4 linked regions of the Homo sapiens genome follow. The protein of the gene in region 4 purifies or fractionates together with the protein of the main gene of each other region. This does not show direct contact. Each region holds a gene or a part of one and is shown on either strand. Other genes may lie near its edges.

Evidence for each region.
Region 1: the proteins of VRK3 (region 4) and PDCD11 purify together in Homo sapiens (affinity purification with mass spectrometry; one large-scale study listed by BioGRID and IntAct). This does not show direct contact.
Region 2: the proteins of VRK3 (region 4) and JARID2 purify together in Homo sapiens (affinity purification with mass spectrometry, with the first as the bait; one large-scale study listed by BioGRID). This does not show direct contact.
Region 3: the proteins of VRK3 (region 4) and PRKCE purify together in Homo sapiens (affinity purification with mass spectrometry; one large-scale study listed by BioGRID and IntAct). This does not show direct contact.

Annotation. Positions count from the first base shown.
Region 1 is NC_000010.11:103,441,626-103,444,209, reverse strand, and holds part of PDCD11 (protein RRP5 homolog), read right to left. Parts: intron 2,385-2,584; coding exon 2,235-2,384; intron 2,001-2,234; coding exon of another isoform or gene 1,998-2,000; coding exon 1,750-1,997; intron 1,046-1,749; coding exon 877-1,045; intron 296-876; coding exon 142-295; intron 1-141. UniProt on the Homo sapiens protein: Essential for the generation of mature 18S rRNA, specifically necessary for cleavages at sites A0, 1 and 2 of the 47S precursor. Directly interacts with U3 snoRNA. Involved in the biogenesis of rRNA.
Region 2 is NC_000006.12:15,249,069-15,252,568, reverse strand, and holds part of JARID2 (protein Jumonji), read right to left. Parts: intron 1-3,500.
Region 3 is NC_000002.12:46,179,675-46,183,174, forward strand, and holds part of PRKCE (protein kinase C epsilon type), read left to right. Parts: intron 1-3,500.
Region 4 is NC_000019.10:50,021,804-50,028,055, forward strand, and holds the start of VRK3 (serine/threonine-protein kinase VRK3), read right to left. Parts: upstream 3,570-6,252; 5' UTR 3,464-3,569; exon of another isoform or gene 3,112-3,463; intron 1-3,111. UniProt on the Homo sapiens protein: Plays a role in the regulation of the cell cycle by phosphorylating the nuclear envelope protein barrier-to-autointegration factor/BAF that is required for disassembly and reassembly, respectively, of the nuclear envelope during mitosis.

The DNA.
Region 1 (2,584 bases), on a different chromosome or scaffold from region 4:
CTGAGGGGCAGAGAATCAACAGGCAGCAAGAGGAAAGCCCTCACAAGGCTCTCCTGACTTAGAAGAAGCAATGCCACAGCCAGTTCCTACTCCCCGATCCTGGAGTGCTCATGGGCTCAGGAGCTGGGAATGAGCACTCACGCTCCTTGCTAGGCAGGCACTCCAGGGCTCGCTGCAGCACGCGGTGACTGGCTGCAGCCTGGCTCCTCCGCAGAAGGAAGGCGCCGTATTTGATCCACACAGCTTTCTCCTGCCGGAAACGCTTCAGCATCCGGTTGTAGAGTTCACCAGCTTCCTGTGGGAAAAGACGAGGCACGCTGAGGAGAGTGTGATACTACAGAGGGGACAAGACAGACAAGCAGCAACACTCACAAGAAGCTAGACCTGGGCTCCCAGACACCAAATCACTCTCAGGGCCTAATGCTAGAGACCTGAGAGGAGCGGGAGGGAGGCTCACAGAAGGGCACCGTGAACAGGCACAACACGACGGAGGGGATTCCCTGCTGATCCGCACCCATGGGAGGGCGGTCCTAGCCTAGAACATGAGAATGACAAGGGGGAGTAGGAGAGACGCCAGAGCGGATGCTGGGCCGGGACGTCCCCTTCTGTCTGTGATGCCCTGCCAGCAGCCCAAGGCAGACACACCAGGGGTCCACTGCCCCTTCACTTCCAAAGCCACTCCTTCCCTCACCTTGACCCCACAGGCCTGAAGAAGAGGTGAGGGAAATGACTTCTTTTACTTGGAAGATAGGGAAGTTGGGGCCCCGATGTTGGGTGGCAAGCTCACAGCAGGACTGGACCCAGCACCCCAGGGGCTCTTCTCTGAGATTGTGGCCCTGGAACTCCCAGGAGTTCGTCTGTGGCCCAACCTCCTACCTGGAATTTCTCTGACTTGGCGTAGATGTCAGCCAGGTGGAGAAAGACTTTGAGAGGCTCGTTGTACTGCACGGCTCGCTCAAAGACCTTGGTCAGGGACTCCTGAGAGCCGTACATGTTCTCCAGGTTCAGCAGAGCCACCCACACGTTCAGCTTCTCCTGCTCCTCTCTGGAGGGAGAGCAGTCAGCACATGAGCGCCACATGAAACCAGTGAGCCTCCCGCCCCATCCAGACAGACTCAGGAACCACCTCCCCCTCCCAGCCTCTATCTGTGTCCTCAGATCCCACCCCAAATGTAGACCCTAAGAGGCTGTGTCCCCACAGCTCCTGCAGCATTAGAAACCCCTGCCCCAACCCCAATGGCTGAGTCTGAGGCTCTCCTGGATTCTGCCTCCATTCCTAGAAAGGATGCCCACCAGATCCCAAACGGGCCTGAGGTTTGGGCTGGACGCAGAGTCCTGGGTCTGATTCTCTCTTCAAGCTAAGAGGATGAAGCAAAGGACTGCCTTCCCTCTTCATTAGGCCTCAAAAACTCCCTCTGTTTGGAAAACCACCACAGGGATTTCGCCCAGGTATGTAGTGAGTTCTTTTCTTACTGTGTTTCTGCTCAAACTGGTTCCCTCATATAAGTGTATGGACTCTTGTGAAGGTTACCCTTAGCAGTTTCAGGGAAGAAGACTATAAAATATAAATGAGTAGATCTATTTCACAGATGGCCGCAGCTATGGCAGAAAGCCTGAGGACCCATGGGCCCCTGGTGGCAGCCACCCAAAATGCTGCCGGCCTGCCTAGGAGGAGCTACCCCACAGGTTGAGAAACTTCCCAGCCCAGAACGTGCGAAGACACTGTGCTCCCTGGGGCAAAGCTGAGACCTGAAGGAGATGGTCTTAAGGGCCCTCTCAGCCACGGCACGGGCCTTCTCGATCTCCGTGGCCTGCAGGTGGAAAGCCATGTACTGCAGCCACAGAATGGAGCTGTTGGGGGAGCTCAGCACCAGTCGGTCAAAATCATCCGCGGACTCTGGCTGCCGCCCAGGATCCATCAGCGCCTCCTCAATGCGGGACAGTTCCTTCTCTGCCTTCTGCTTCTCCAACTCCCTTTCTTTCTTGCTTTTCTTTATCTGCTATGGAAAGCAGAAACACCGTGAGTCATCTGCTCCTCAAGGCCTAGGGGAGGTCTGTGGTGGAAGTCACGAGTTGGCTGGGCAGCCCAGGGCTCTATATATACCCCCTGGCCTGGGACTGGCCGCTGCCCCCTCCCCCACTCACCCAGGAAGACACCCAGTCTAGGAACAGAGCACAAGAGACTGACACCAAGGGGTCCCTGCAAAAAGGACATGCCCTGCAAAATACAGCACCGTGGCTTGGTGTGGCTTCTCATCCTCCTCGCTGTCTGAGCTCTCTGCTAGAGGTGGCAAGGCCGGGGTCAGAGAGTCTAGTCCCACATTCCAAGCGAAGCCTGAAGACAGCTGCAGCCGGGGCGCTTCTGCTGGCTTGGTTTGCTTCTCCTGGAGGAACACAGAGGCGCTAAAGAAAGCACCTGGCTCAGGCTGCTCCCTGTTCCCCCGTGCCAGCCCACCTGGAGGAGCATGGACTCCTACCAAGCCCAGAGACCCCTCCTCTCCTCTCCTCTCCTCCTAGGCCATGCCAGGCCCCAGCCCACTGGGGAAACTTTATAGCAGTGACATAAAAGTTTTCTTTGTAAATA
Region 2 (3,500 bases), on a different chromosome or scaffold from region 4:
TCTTTCTGCTCCCTGCCACTCAGTAAATGGCACAATTATTTTAACTCCAAAAGTAATACAATCACCTCAGTAGGACTACTTTAAACTGATCCACACTTTACATGTTACATGGCATGAAGCAGACAGGGAGTCCAGTTTAGCATGCGGGGATTAAGGCTAAACACAGTTGGAAGCACTCTTATCAGAGATGACAAGAACCAGAAGTTGGTTAGTTAATGGGAACAAGTTTGTTAGATAACAAACAATTTTTAAAAAAAAAAGGTATTCCCTAACATTTTGTATTAACTGACAGACAAATCTACTTTTAATTACGGTTTTTTTGATATGAGGCCATGGGTCTTCTTTCTGAGCTTAAGTCTCTGAACGTTCTGTTGTTCTACATTATGCTGTTTTGATTGTTGGGGAAGTCTGGGCATAACTGAAGTTTGGTTCTTAAAAGGGAATCACTTGCAAAGCAATGTGTGTGGACAGTCCTTTCAGATTTTCCCAAACATCTTAAAAATGTCTGGCCCACATTTTTTTTTGAATGGAGTCTCACTCTTTTGCCCAGGCTGGAACGCAGTGGCAGGATCTCAGCTCACTGCAACCTCCGCCTCCCAGGTTCAAGCGGCTCACTGCAACCTCCGCCTCCCAGGTTCAAGCGGCTCACCGCAACCTCCGCCTCCTGGGTTCAAGTAATTCTGCTGCCTCAGCCTCCCGAGTAGCTGGGATTACAGGCATGCGCCACCATGCCCGGGTAATTTTTGTATTTTTAGTAGAGACGGGGTTTCACCATGTTGGTCAGGCTGGGCTTGAACTCCTGACCCTCATGATCCGCCCACCTCAGCCTCCCAAAGTGCTGGGATTACAGGCATGAGCCACCACGCTCTTTTTCACACTGTTTCAAGGTTGACATAATACTTAACTGTAATTACAATAATAAGCCCAACTGGAATAACCAGATTTGGGAACAAACAACTGACACTTGGCAAGACTTCTGGGTGAAAGCCAAAGGGGACAGAGGTACATCCCAGAGGTGGCCAGGACCTGTATCCTGGGATATCAGTCAGGACATACTGCAGCCAACAGGGCAAGCAGGATGGGTAGACAAAAGGTGGTTAGTAGAGCTGCTACTACTGTAATCCTGGGGGAGACGTGGACCAGTAACATCAGGATGATCAGAGCAATGCAGCCAGAATTCAGACAATGTCAGGAGTGTGAGTCCTCACACCATCATGAGCAAGGGCAAACCACTAGCTTAAAAATGTTCAGCTGGCTGGGTGCAGTGGCTCACGCCTGTAATCCCAGCACTTTGGGAGGCCAAGGCGGGCAGATCACCTGAGGTCAGGAGTTCAAGACCAGCTAGGCCAATATGGTGAAATGAAACTCCATCTCTACTAAAATACAAAAATTAGCCGGACATGATAGGGGGTGCCTGTAATCCCACCTACTCGGGAGGCTGAGACAGGAGAATCGATTGAACCCGGAAGACAGTGGTTGCAGTGAGGAACCACTGCGTTCCAGCCTGGGTGGCTGAGCAAGACCCTGTCTCAAAAAAAAAAGGAAACAAAAAAACAAATGCTCTCTAGGTTAGCCTTCACCAAGTGTTTTAACGAACTACGCTTTTAATATGACATTCTCGTGTCTTCTCTGAAAAAAAAAAAAAAGTTCCATTTTGAAGGTAACAGACACCAATTATATACTCCAAAAGATTGTCTTGTTCTGAAGGAGGAAAGTTTAACATTTGGAGTACGGTATATATTAACACTGGAGTTATTTCCAAGGCACTTGGAAGTGCGTCAATAGCCTTCAGCCCAGCAACAGGGACTGGTTTAACCCACTATGAGGAAACAGGCATTACCGAGTACCAAATAATTCTAGTTGTCTATTTGGGCCAGTGGCTACAGGGACACACAAGTTAGGTATTAGCCTACTGTAAAATAATATAACCTGGATAATAAACCAAGTTGGATTACTTGTCGACATAATTTTTCTTTCAAATTTTAGTGACACTTTGGACTTCATTGTGTCTTCCTTCCATACTGTCCCTGTACAGTGATAGGAGCTAAACTGCCACTGCCCTGCACCTAAGTAACACAGAGCAAGATTTTCCACTACTAGAAACAAGTAACTGAAAAGCCACGTAAACATCCCAGGAAAGAAAAAATACAGCAATAAAATAACGTGCAAATTTCCCCACCACCCCACCAACTGTAAAATAACGTGACTGAACAATTTGTGATGAATAAGTTTTAAAACAAAAAACCTCATAAATCCAACCACTGTATATTTTGTGTTCTTCCTACTTTTTTCTTTGTAATTTTACGTAGTTGTAATTATAGTAAATCCTTTTGAAGCTTATAACAAAAACTTTTTCCAATTTTTAAATCATACACTTTCAAATCAGAAAATTAGATACTTAAAACTTACAGCCTAGTGGTACAAATTCTGCTTGAGCTGTCCTAGAAAATCAAACTGGCAATTTGTTTTCATGCTAACTACAGGAATTACTATCTTCATAAGGCAGAGATTCTCTATTTCAAACTGATACCTGATCAAATAGTGGTGAAGCCCCAGTATCCTATCTGTTATTCTCCCTAGGAATAACCAGGCAGTGGAATGATGGAAACGGCAGAAAATATCTCTAGAGCAAAACATGCAACTGTTTTTATTGTCCAAGTCGATTGGGGCTTTCAAAGGCAAATGTTTTCAGTTATTTAAGGTATTGCAGTGGGAGTCGTGCTCAACACAATTAAGACAGGATTACACTGCAACTTATGAGTTTCTCAAGGACATCATTTATTACGAAATATAACAATCATTTCTCCCAAAGCCTACTATCGACAATCGCACCCCCAACTCTGCTTTGCTAAGGTAATAAACTAAATGGCAACTCAGCAGGCATCCCGGGCTTTTGAGACCAATTGTGGGAAACGTGCTGCCTTCCACCAGCTCAAGTAATAATGCCACCTTACTTATAAAGAGGCATACTGTTTTACATCTTCCATGCACATGATCTTTTCAGTGACTTAGTTAAGTGGCAATGGCAGGTATTTTTCCATTTTACAAAAGAGAAAACAGAACGCCAGCCTCTGGTTTCCCTGCTCAGAAGAACTAAGCCCAGAGCACCTTGAGACTTAAAGGAGTCCTGTGCTCTTCTCAGTACATTTATCAATGACAAGTCTTCCTTTGGTCCAGCCCCCCAAAATAACAGTCAGTAGGTACAGAGCCGGCACAGCAAAGGAAAGCCCCCCCACCGTAGTACCACAAAGCTTCCAGAAAGAGCAACAGTTGCTGCTGTGCAGCATCATCATGAAAGGCATCCGGCCACATCCTGCTGAAGCACCCCTAACACGACTTCAAGTGACAAGGTGGCCAAATCCACAACGCGGTCCTCCAACAAAGCACAGCTTTCCCTGAATACTTTCATTTCTTTACATAAGCACTGGAGAGGGGACACATGCACCACGCTAGTAATGCAACACCATCAGGAGACCTGGAACAGAGGAAGTGAAAACATT
Region 3 (3,500 bases), on a different chromosome or scaffold from region 4:
TTTGTTTCTATCTTGTGTCAGCAATTAGAAAACTCTAGTGCCCCAAGTCCTGGGAGAAGAAATTTCATTAATTGGGCCTAAGCCTACCTGTTTTGCAGACCCCATGGGCCTAGTGATGGTCTGGGATGCCTGGCTCTAGGCCCTTCATGAATCAGACTACAGCCATCCCCCCCAACTCCCTGCCTCCACTTCCCAAAATCAAAACACCCCCTGACAGCACAGCAGCCCCTGACCCTGAACCCAGATCACGTTACTGGCTCTAGATAAAGTAGCAGCAAGAGAGGTGCATTTATTAATTTTTTCTAGCAGATATCTATGGAGTATGCAGTATGTGCCAGGCATTGTGCTAGGCTGGGGATAGAATGGTGAGTTCAACCCAGTCTCTGCCTGCAAGGAGCTCATAGATTAGTTGAAAAGAAGAGGCCTCCTCAGTGTGGTGAGTACTAAGTTAGGAGAGATGGTGAGGGCACCCACAAGAAGCTTTGCTCAAGCAGCCCTGGAGGGATGAGGAGGGTTCCTGAAGAAAGGGCATGTACATGGAGGTGGGGAAATTGCATGGATGTGGGGCAGAAGGCAGGGATAGGGGAGGGCATTCCAGGTAGAGGGCTAGCTATGCAAGGCTGGAGGCAAGAGAAAGCAGGAGGAAGCCCCATGGTTGGGCAGTGCCAGGGAGATGAACCTGGGGGATGAGGCAAGGACAAGCTCCTGAAGGGCCTCAGAAGCAGGTGAGCGAAAGAACTCAGGACTTTACCCCAAAAGCCGTGATGTGCAATGAAGCATCTCAATTGCTGGAGGAAGCACTAGGATGTTCAGGCAGGCCCAGGCTCAGTCCTAGTTCAGGATTTGGAGGCACAGAAAGAAAGGTAAGACTCAGCCCCTAACTTCAGGAAACTCACTGATGGGCAGATACCATGCACTGTGTTGGGAAACAACCAAGCTGTGCATGATGCATGCCCATGGCACACGAATGCTAAGATTTGAAGGCATGATGGGAGCTATCATTTATTGAGTGCACTCTGTATGCCAGGTTCTGCAGAAGGAACCTAATATCACATCTCACTCAGTCCTCAAGGAAACCTATAGTGTGCCTGTTACCACCCCCGTGTGACAGATGGAAAGACCACGGCTTAAAGAGGTTAACTTCACAGCGTCAATAACCAGGAAAGGATGGCACCAGAATGAGCTCAGCCGGTGATCTTCCTCCTACTCTATTCAGCCTTCCCTAAGTGTGGGCCAAAGGTTGTAGAAAAGGCTTCACGGATTAGGAAGGGACTGGCGAGTTAGAATGTTGTTCCCTGTGTCCCACTGTCATCTCTCAGGCTCTGCAGTGGGGGCCAGGAGCCTGACATTTAGGCATTAGGGGAGGCAGGGATGACTGAGGATCAGGATAAACAAGTGTCTCTGAGAGCCTGCCCCTCAGAATCTTTAAGTCGAGTCCAGTGCCTGCTCTGTGCGGGAGGTAGCAGCTTTTCAAAGAATAAAATCAGCGAGTAAAGAATATAATCTGCAGTTCTTTGCAAATTTGACGATGCTGTGCTGCCTACATACCATTAATAGGGGATGGGTTTTCCCAGAGATGTTTGCTTTGGAAAACTCCCAAGCCTCTACTGTTAACAGTTAGAGATTGCACATAGTGGGGATGGTTATTTGAATTAGAAATGGGTAACTCACATGCACCTGAAATGTCTCCAAGTAAAGTAGGGTAGGGGCCAAGTTGTATAAGGAGATGGGTGAGCCAAGTCTGTAACGATCATGAAGAATGGCATACTCTCTCAAATGCCACAGATGATTCTGGAACCTCAAGAATCTCAGAGCTGAGCTAAATGGCTCTCCAAGATAGCCCACCATGGAGCTAAGGTCCTCTGGAATGACACCACTAGCAGTATTGACTGAGCCTGGTTCCCTGATTCACAACAGCAAGTCGTGAAATTCAGACATCCTGTAGGATCTAGCTTTACCACTATGCTCAGTTGACCTCAAGAAATGAAACCAGCTTCCATGATTAACAGACACTAATGACCAACAGGTGAAACACAATCAGGTAAATGGGGAGAGCCAGTGCCAGAGGGCTTACAGATTTTCTGAAGTTCTTCATACACAGGTTCCCCTCATTAGCAGCCATCTGGGAGGGAGCTGGGGATGATTCTGAAACCTGGAGAATCCCGGTCACTATATCATACATTAGTTGAAAAGAGGGAGCCTCCTCAGTGTGGTGAGTGCCAAGTTAGGAGAGATGGTGAAGGCATCTCCTGCCTACACGCCTTGTACAGCCAGCCCTCTGCCTGGATTATACCGGTCTACCACATACCTGGGCAAGGCTCGTCCTTAGTGACGTTACAAATGGAATATTCTTCTTGCCCTATTCCTTGACTCTCTTTTTCTCCTTACTGCCACCCCTACTACTCCATTATCCCCTTCGGCTCCAGCTCCCCCGGCGTGGATGCTCCTGGCTTGCCTTCTGGGATGATACCCAGGGCTTCCCTAATTGTTGCCACAGCCTACCCAGCCCGCTCCTCCCTCTGGACTGACTCACTTCGCCAGGCACAGAGGGCCCATAGCCTGCAATCCTCCCCAGTCAGTGAATCCCTCCCCCTTCCACAGAGATCTTCAGAAGAGGTGTCGCCACACCCTTTGCCCAGGCGCCACCCTCCCGCGTCAGTGTGCGTCACCGTGGGGATGGTCTTTGTTGTTTCCCTCTCAAGCAGGGCCCTCCTTTTCCTCTTGTTCTGTACACACTGGAGAGGGAGAACAGATGGTCCTCCTGCCGGGGGCCAGCCCTCCTGGCAGAGGTGACCAAACCACCCGGCTTTCCCATCTCAGGGGCATCATGGACACCCCTCAGCTATAGGTTCTGTTTCTGGGGATCCCTTGGGTTTTCTGTGTGTCCCCCCCTTCCCCCTTCCAAGGTCTCTGAGACCTGCTGACCTATGCAGCTCAAGCCCAGAGAGAAGACACCAGGCAGGACTGGTGGTGCTAAAAGATGGTAGAAATCAGTTTGTCCCTCCTCCGTGCTGTTTGTGATTTTGATTTCAACCTGGGACGAGTTGAAAACAGTCCCCCGCGCAGCTCACCCGGCCCACGTTACCCACTATCTTCCCGGACTCACAGCTGTCTCCACCCATGCTTGCCTACTGGCAGGCCTTTCCGGCTTTATTTTGCCTAGTGGTGTTACCAAAATGTCTCCTGGTTGAACTTGACTCTTGTTATATCTTCCAATTTCTCCCGTGTCCAGATTTCCAGACCTTACCCACTGTGGAAGGCATCACACTGAAGCCCAGACATGAGTTCTGGGTCTGCTCTTACCCAGTCCAGTGACCCTGGGAAAGTCAACAAACCTCTCTGAGCCAGTTTCCTCATCTGCAGGATCAGGATGTTACCAGCCTGTTCTGAGGATCAAATGAGCGAATAAATGCAAAGATTCTTTGTAAACTGTAAACCAACATTCTCCAAACTGCATTCTGCAGACCCTGCTCTCAGGAGAGGTGTTCATAAACTATTTA
Region 4 (6,252 bases):
CTCATTTCATGACAGTTCAGTATGTGCAGACCACTGTGCTAAGTTCTCGGCAGGTATTATCTACAGAACCTTCCCAATCACCCTTTTCAAGGTAAGAATGATTTCCCCTTTGGGGAGATGAGAAGCAGAGGCTCAGAGAGCAAATGACTTGCCCAGGGCCACAAACCTCTTAAGCGGCGAGCCAGACACATGATTTTGTTTAATCTTTCCCTCCACTCTATGAGGTAGGGATGATTATCCCATCTTTGAAACCTACAAAATGATGCTCAAAGGGTGACAATTCTCCTTCCCCCAGACCTGACTCCACTCACCTAGAAAACAGTGGGGACGCAGCTGAAATCCAGAACCCAAAAGCCCATGTTCTTCACCTGGTGCCAATTTATACAACGAAAACGCAAAACCGGACTGGGTTCTTGGGGCAGCAGGTCAGAACATTCTTGTAGATTTAAATCTGGAAGCTGATGTTGGGTGTGGAACCACGGCAAGAGAGTCTTTTAACCATGTGCCACCCCCGGTTCTGACACCGTCACCAGCCTGGTCTAGGCCACCATCTCTCCCTTGTGCTACTGCAGCAGCCTCCTAACTAGACTTTCGGCTTCTACGCTTGTCCCTACAATCTATTTTCAACCCAGTAGCTTGACGGATCCACTTAAAATCTAAGTCAGACCCTGTCTGTGTCCCTGCCCTGGCCCATATGGTGGGTCGGACACGGTGGCTCACGCCTGTGATCCCAGCACTTTGGGAGGCCGAGGTGGGCGGATCACGTGAGGTTAGGAGTTCCAGACCAGCCTGGACAACATGGTGAAACCCCGTCTCTACTAAAAAAGTACAAAAAAAAAAATCAGCCGGGCGTGGTGGTGGGCACCCGTAATCCCAGCTACTTGGGAGGCTGAGGCGCAAGAGTCGCTTGAACCTGGGAGGCAGAGGTTGCAATGAGCCAAGATTGCACCGCTGCACTCCAGCCTGGGCAACAGAGCAAGACTCAGTCTCATAAATAAACAAATAAATAAATAAAATGTAAGTCAGACCCTGTCCCTCCTCTACTCAAAACCGTATGGTGGATTTCATTTTAGACAGAATAAATGCTGAAATTCCTACCATGGCCCAGGAGCCCCCTGTATGATCTGCCACTTCCCTGTTCCCTCTCTGACCTCTCCCACCTCTCCCCTTGCTCACGCTGAGTCAGCCACAACAGCTTCGGTGCTTTTCCCCAATCGTGACAAGAACGTTTCTTCCCCAAGACCTTTGCACCTGCTCTCCCATCTGCCTGGAACGCTGTCCCCCTAAGAGTGCACACAGTTAACTTCCTCATCACATTCTTTAGCTCTCTGTTCAAATGTCACCTTCTCAGAGACCTTCTTGGACACGATTTTACTGTGTTTTTTCTTTTCTTTTTTTTGAGATGGAGTTTGGCTCTTTTCGCCCAGGCTGGAGTGCAATGGCACGATCTCGGCTTACTGCAAACTCTGCCTCCCGAGTTCAAGTGATTCTCCTGCCTCAGCCTCCCATGTAGTTGGGATTACAGATGCGTGTCACCACGCCTGGCTAATTTTATATTTTTAGTAGAGATGGGGTTTCACCATGTTGGCCAGGCTGGTCTTAAACTCCTGACCTCAGGTGATCCCCCTCAGCCTCCCAAAGTCCTGGGATTACAGGCTCGAGCCACCGTGCCTGGCCCTGGACACCATTTTACTAATAGCATGTTTTATCCTCCTTACCTTGCTTTATTTTTCTTCACAGTGCTTGTCACTACCTGACATACTCTGACTTACTAGAATGTAAGCTTCATGATGGCGGGGACTTTTCCCTGCCTTGTTTGCCACAGTGTGCCCAGAGCCTCAAACAGGCCTGGCACAGAGCAAATGCTGGGTCTACGTCTGCTGAGTGAATAAATCATTGTCTCCTTTGCAAAAGAAAATGTGCCAAGAAGGTGGGTGGGGGGGGTCCCCAGCTGTGTCAGTACACATTCATCTCTCAGGCAAATCTAGACATCCAGCCAGAGACTCAAAGCTCAGGGCCGGAATTATCTAGCTGGATGGTCCCTAAAAAAGACGTGCCACTTAGAAGCAGATCAGTACAGGGGTTAAGAGGATAAACTTGGGAAATAATCTGCCTGGGTTTGGATCTTGCTTCTGCCATGTATTGCATGATGGACAGAGTTTTGCTATGTCACCCAGGTTGGAGAGCAGTGGCACGACCTCAGCTCACTTGCAACCTCCGCTTCCTGGGTTCAAGCGATTCTCCCTGCCTCAACCTCCCGAGTAGCTGGGATTACAGGCGCATGCCACCATGCCCGGCTAATTTTTTTATTTTTAGTAGAGATGGGGTTTCACCATGTTGGCCAGGCTGGTCTCGAACTCCTGAACCCAGGTGATCCGCCCACCTCGGTCTCCTAAAGTGCTGGGACTACAGGCGGGAGCCACCGTGCCCAGCCAAATTTTTTGGATTTTAGAACCTATTACATATTACAACACCGGCGAGATCCAGGGGCAACTCTCCATAAGTATATGATTTGCACAACAAAATCTTTAAAAATTCTAAATAGTCACACATCAGTTCAGAGTGGGTATTGCCAGCAAACAAGTTCAAAGCCAGGTGAGGTTGGCCTGCCAAGTAAGTTGCAAAACAGAGAAAAAGACCTTTCAGTTTTCAGAACGTTTTGGATTTTAAAGTTATAGATAAGGGACTGCAGACCTGTAAATATTCTTTAACATTTCTTTTTTAGTGTCTGGCATCCCCAACCACCCTGAGAATGTGAATTAGCTGGGCAGGATTTTTGTTTTAGACACTGCTATAATAACCTGGGCTTGAACAGTGCCTATTAGACTAGCACCGTTCAAACCCAGGTTATAGTAGTGTAATATCGGTTGCACGGAGCCTTCCATATAGTAAACGCTCAATAAAATTGGATGTGCTGAAGTCACCTATGCAATGGCCAGGTCAGGACTTGAAACCCTAAGACTCCAACCCTCAGGCCAGTCTTTATCTTAATTTATTTGACTTATTCAACAAATGTTTAGGGAACAGCTGCTATGCGTCAACTACTGTATAGTGTTCCTCCTAGAAAGTTCAGGAAACAGCACAGCAAAAAGGCTAAAAGTCAGACCCCACCTCAGCGCAGGTGGGGCGATTGCCTAGGCGACGACAGAGCCTCCCTTCGGCCGCACCTCCATAGAAACCACGGGATGACTTAGACGCCAAGTTTCACAGCGGAGGAGCTGTCGAACTTCCCACAAGTTCCGCCCATCTCCGCCTTAGCCATGCCCAACACGGAGCCCAAGGTGGCTTGGGAAGCTCAAGAGGAGGCCAGTGAACCCCGCGACCCGGAGCCGCTCTCATTCCGAACCCCGACAGCAGGGGCCTCCGCCTCCCACAAACGGTCGTGCTGACGTCACGGACGCCCCGGCCGAGCTGCGGCTAGGGGGTCGGGGGACGTCCCCTCGTTCGCCTCGCTTCCCCTCACCTCTGTACTTGGGGACTGGGGTGGGATTCTGGGCTTCTGCAGCCTGACCCTCGGATCCTCCGCAGTTACCCGGACTCACCTTCTCAGTTGCCCAGCGAAAACTTCCGCTGGGCGGAGAGCGCTGCGCGCGCATCCTGAATCTGAGGCGCCCGCGCAGGCGCCGCTGACTTCCTGACGGCCCCTGGGCTTCGCCTGCCTGGGAACTCCGTTTCCCAGATGCCTCCGCGGCAGGCCCGCCCTCTGATTCCAGACGGAATGGGGATTATTCCCTCATTGCTCATCCCCCTCCCCTCCGTTCTAGCCGCTTTGGAACGCCTTCTGGTTCTACTGCGCATGTGTCAGTGTCAGACCAATCGGAATGCACCGTGAGGTACCTCTCCACCAATCAGAGGTCACATTACCTAAACTTCTGCCTCAACTCCGCCCCTTACTTCCGCTTGTTTTCTCAGAAACCCGTCACAACGCGTTTCCATGGCAACCTACCGCTTGCTCTTCGGAAAAGGTTAACACTCCCTGACTTCTAGTAAAGGCAAGAAGCTAATTAGATGATTCTTTAACAAGGTAAAAATCTGGACTACAAACTGATGCCGCCTGGTCCTGATTCTCTTTCTACTCTACTCCCACAGTGCTAAGGCTGAAGAAGCAGGAGGAGATGGGAAGGCGAAAGAAGTCGCCCGCACAGCCCTCTGGGAAATAGAGTCCTGGCGCTGCCGCGGAGGATCCTGGGTGCAGCCGCTCAGAGAAGCTTCTCGCGCACAGGAAGTCGCTGCGAGGAGGCGCGTGTGCGGGGAGTTGAATCTCCCGCTCCCTTGAGGCTGGGGTTGCGTCTGTTGACGCGGCCGACTACAATCCCGAGGTACGGAGACGCTGGGGCTGAGGGACTTGCGGGCTCGGTCCTTCCTGAGAGGTGACGGAATGCAAGTGGGGGCGACTTCGGCAAAGGGTGCGTCGCCTTGGGCGGCGGTTGTCAGGGTGAAGGTGTGAACCGTCTTTCACAGTCTGTTATGAAAACCGCTCAAGGTCTGGGCACGGTAGATCACGCCTGTAATCCCAGCACTTTGGGAAGCCTTGGCGGGGGGGATCACTTACAGCCAGGAGTTCCTCGAACCCCCAGTCTCTACTAAAAATACAAAAATTAGTTGAGCGTGGTGGCGGGGGCCTGTAATCCCAGCTACTCAGGAGGCTGAGGCAGGAGAATCGCTTGAACCCAGGAGCTGGAGGTTGCAGTGAGCCGAGATCGCGCCATTGCACTCCAGCCTGGGTGACAGAGCGAGACTACATCTTAAAAAAAAAAAAAAAAAAAGAAAGGAAGAAAACCACCTTGGGAGGCTGAGGTGGGCGGATCGCTTGAGCCCAGGATTTCGAGGCTAGCCTGGGCCAGATGGTGAAGCCCTGTCTCCACAAAAGAAGAAAAAAATAGAAAAATTAGCCGGGCGTGGTGGTGCGCCCCTGTATTCCTAGCTAATTGGGAGGCCGAGGTGGGAGGATTGCTTGAACCCAGGAGGCAGAGGTTGCAGTGAGCTGAGAAAGAAAAGAAAAGAAAAGAAAACTGCTAAAGGGGTTTCCAGGCCTCCCTGATGGCCCTGAGAGGAGTGGTTCTGTTTTATTTTGGTTTTGGTTGGGGAAGGAGGGGAATGAGTTACCTGAAGTTGGCAAATTTAGGCAGAATCTTGCTGGACGATGGATGGGAGTTCTTCGGGAAGTTGAAGTACTTAACATTTACAGTATTTGAGTGCTTTCTGTGTGCCAGGCGCCCTGCTGGAGTTGCATTTCCTCTTCTGATCCCCGCAGCAGCACTGAGACATAAGTGCAGGTCCCCTTGGCACCAAGGCAATCTCGGGAATCAGAATTTTTCAGATTTTAGAAAGCTAATAGGGTGCATATTTTATAATTAGGCAGCACCCCCCCACACCCCGAGGAATCTGGGCCAGTTTTTGGTCATAAAATGTTTCTGTGGGGCAAGGTGTGAATATTCACACTTATGAGAACATTAAGACCCTACATGGCCTGTGGCAATCCAGGTGAAGTTTTGCGGTCAGTTTATAAATCAAGTTCTGGTTTTTGGAGCATTTAAAGGACCATAGATCTGTTGTATTTGTTCCATTTGGTACATGTGGAAACTAAGGCTTAGAGAAGGTAAATGGTCTGGAAGGAAGGGCAAGACTCTTGGGCCCAAGGTCTCTCAGCCTGATAATTGTTTGGCTTAAGTCACTCTGGGCTGGATGACCTTGGGCTCCACCTCTGGGCCCTCGTTTCTTTCCTCCCAGAGCTGAGAGTATATGAGATGTGGGCAGAATGTGATTTGGTAACTGCAGACAGGGATCTCAAGCTCAGCTGTCTGTGAGGGCCAGGCAGATGACATACAGGAAAGAAGAGAACTGGTCCAGGTGAGGCTGCGGGGCCTTGGGGAGCACTTGCCTCATCTGAAGGGGAGAATTGTGTTTTTTTTTTGATGACAGAGTCTCGCTCTGTCACCCAGGCTGGAGTTCGGTCTCACTGGAACCTCCACCTCCCCGGTTGAAGCGATTCTCCTGCCTCAGCCTCCCAAGCAGCTGGAATTACAGGCGTGCACCACCATGCCTGGCTAATTTCTGTATTTTTGGTAGATACGGGGGTTTCACCATGTTGATCAGGCTGGTCTTGGACTCCAAACTTCAGGTGATCCGCCTGCCTTGGCCTCCCAAAGTGCTGGGATGGCAGGCATGAGCCACTGCACCCAGCCGCTTTTTAAACTTAAATTTAATTTTTTTGGCCGGGTGTGGTGGCTCATGCCTGTAATCCCAGCACTT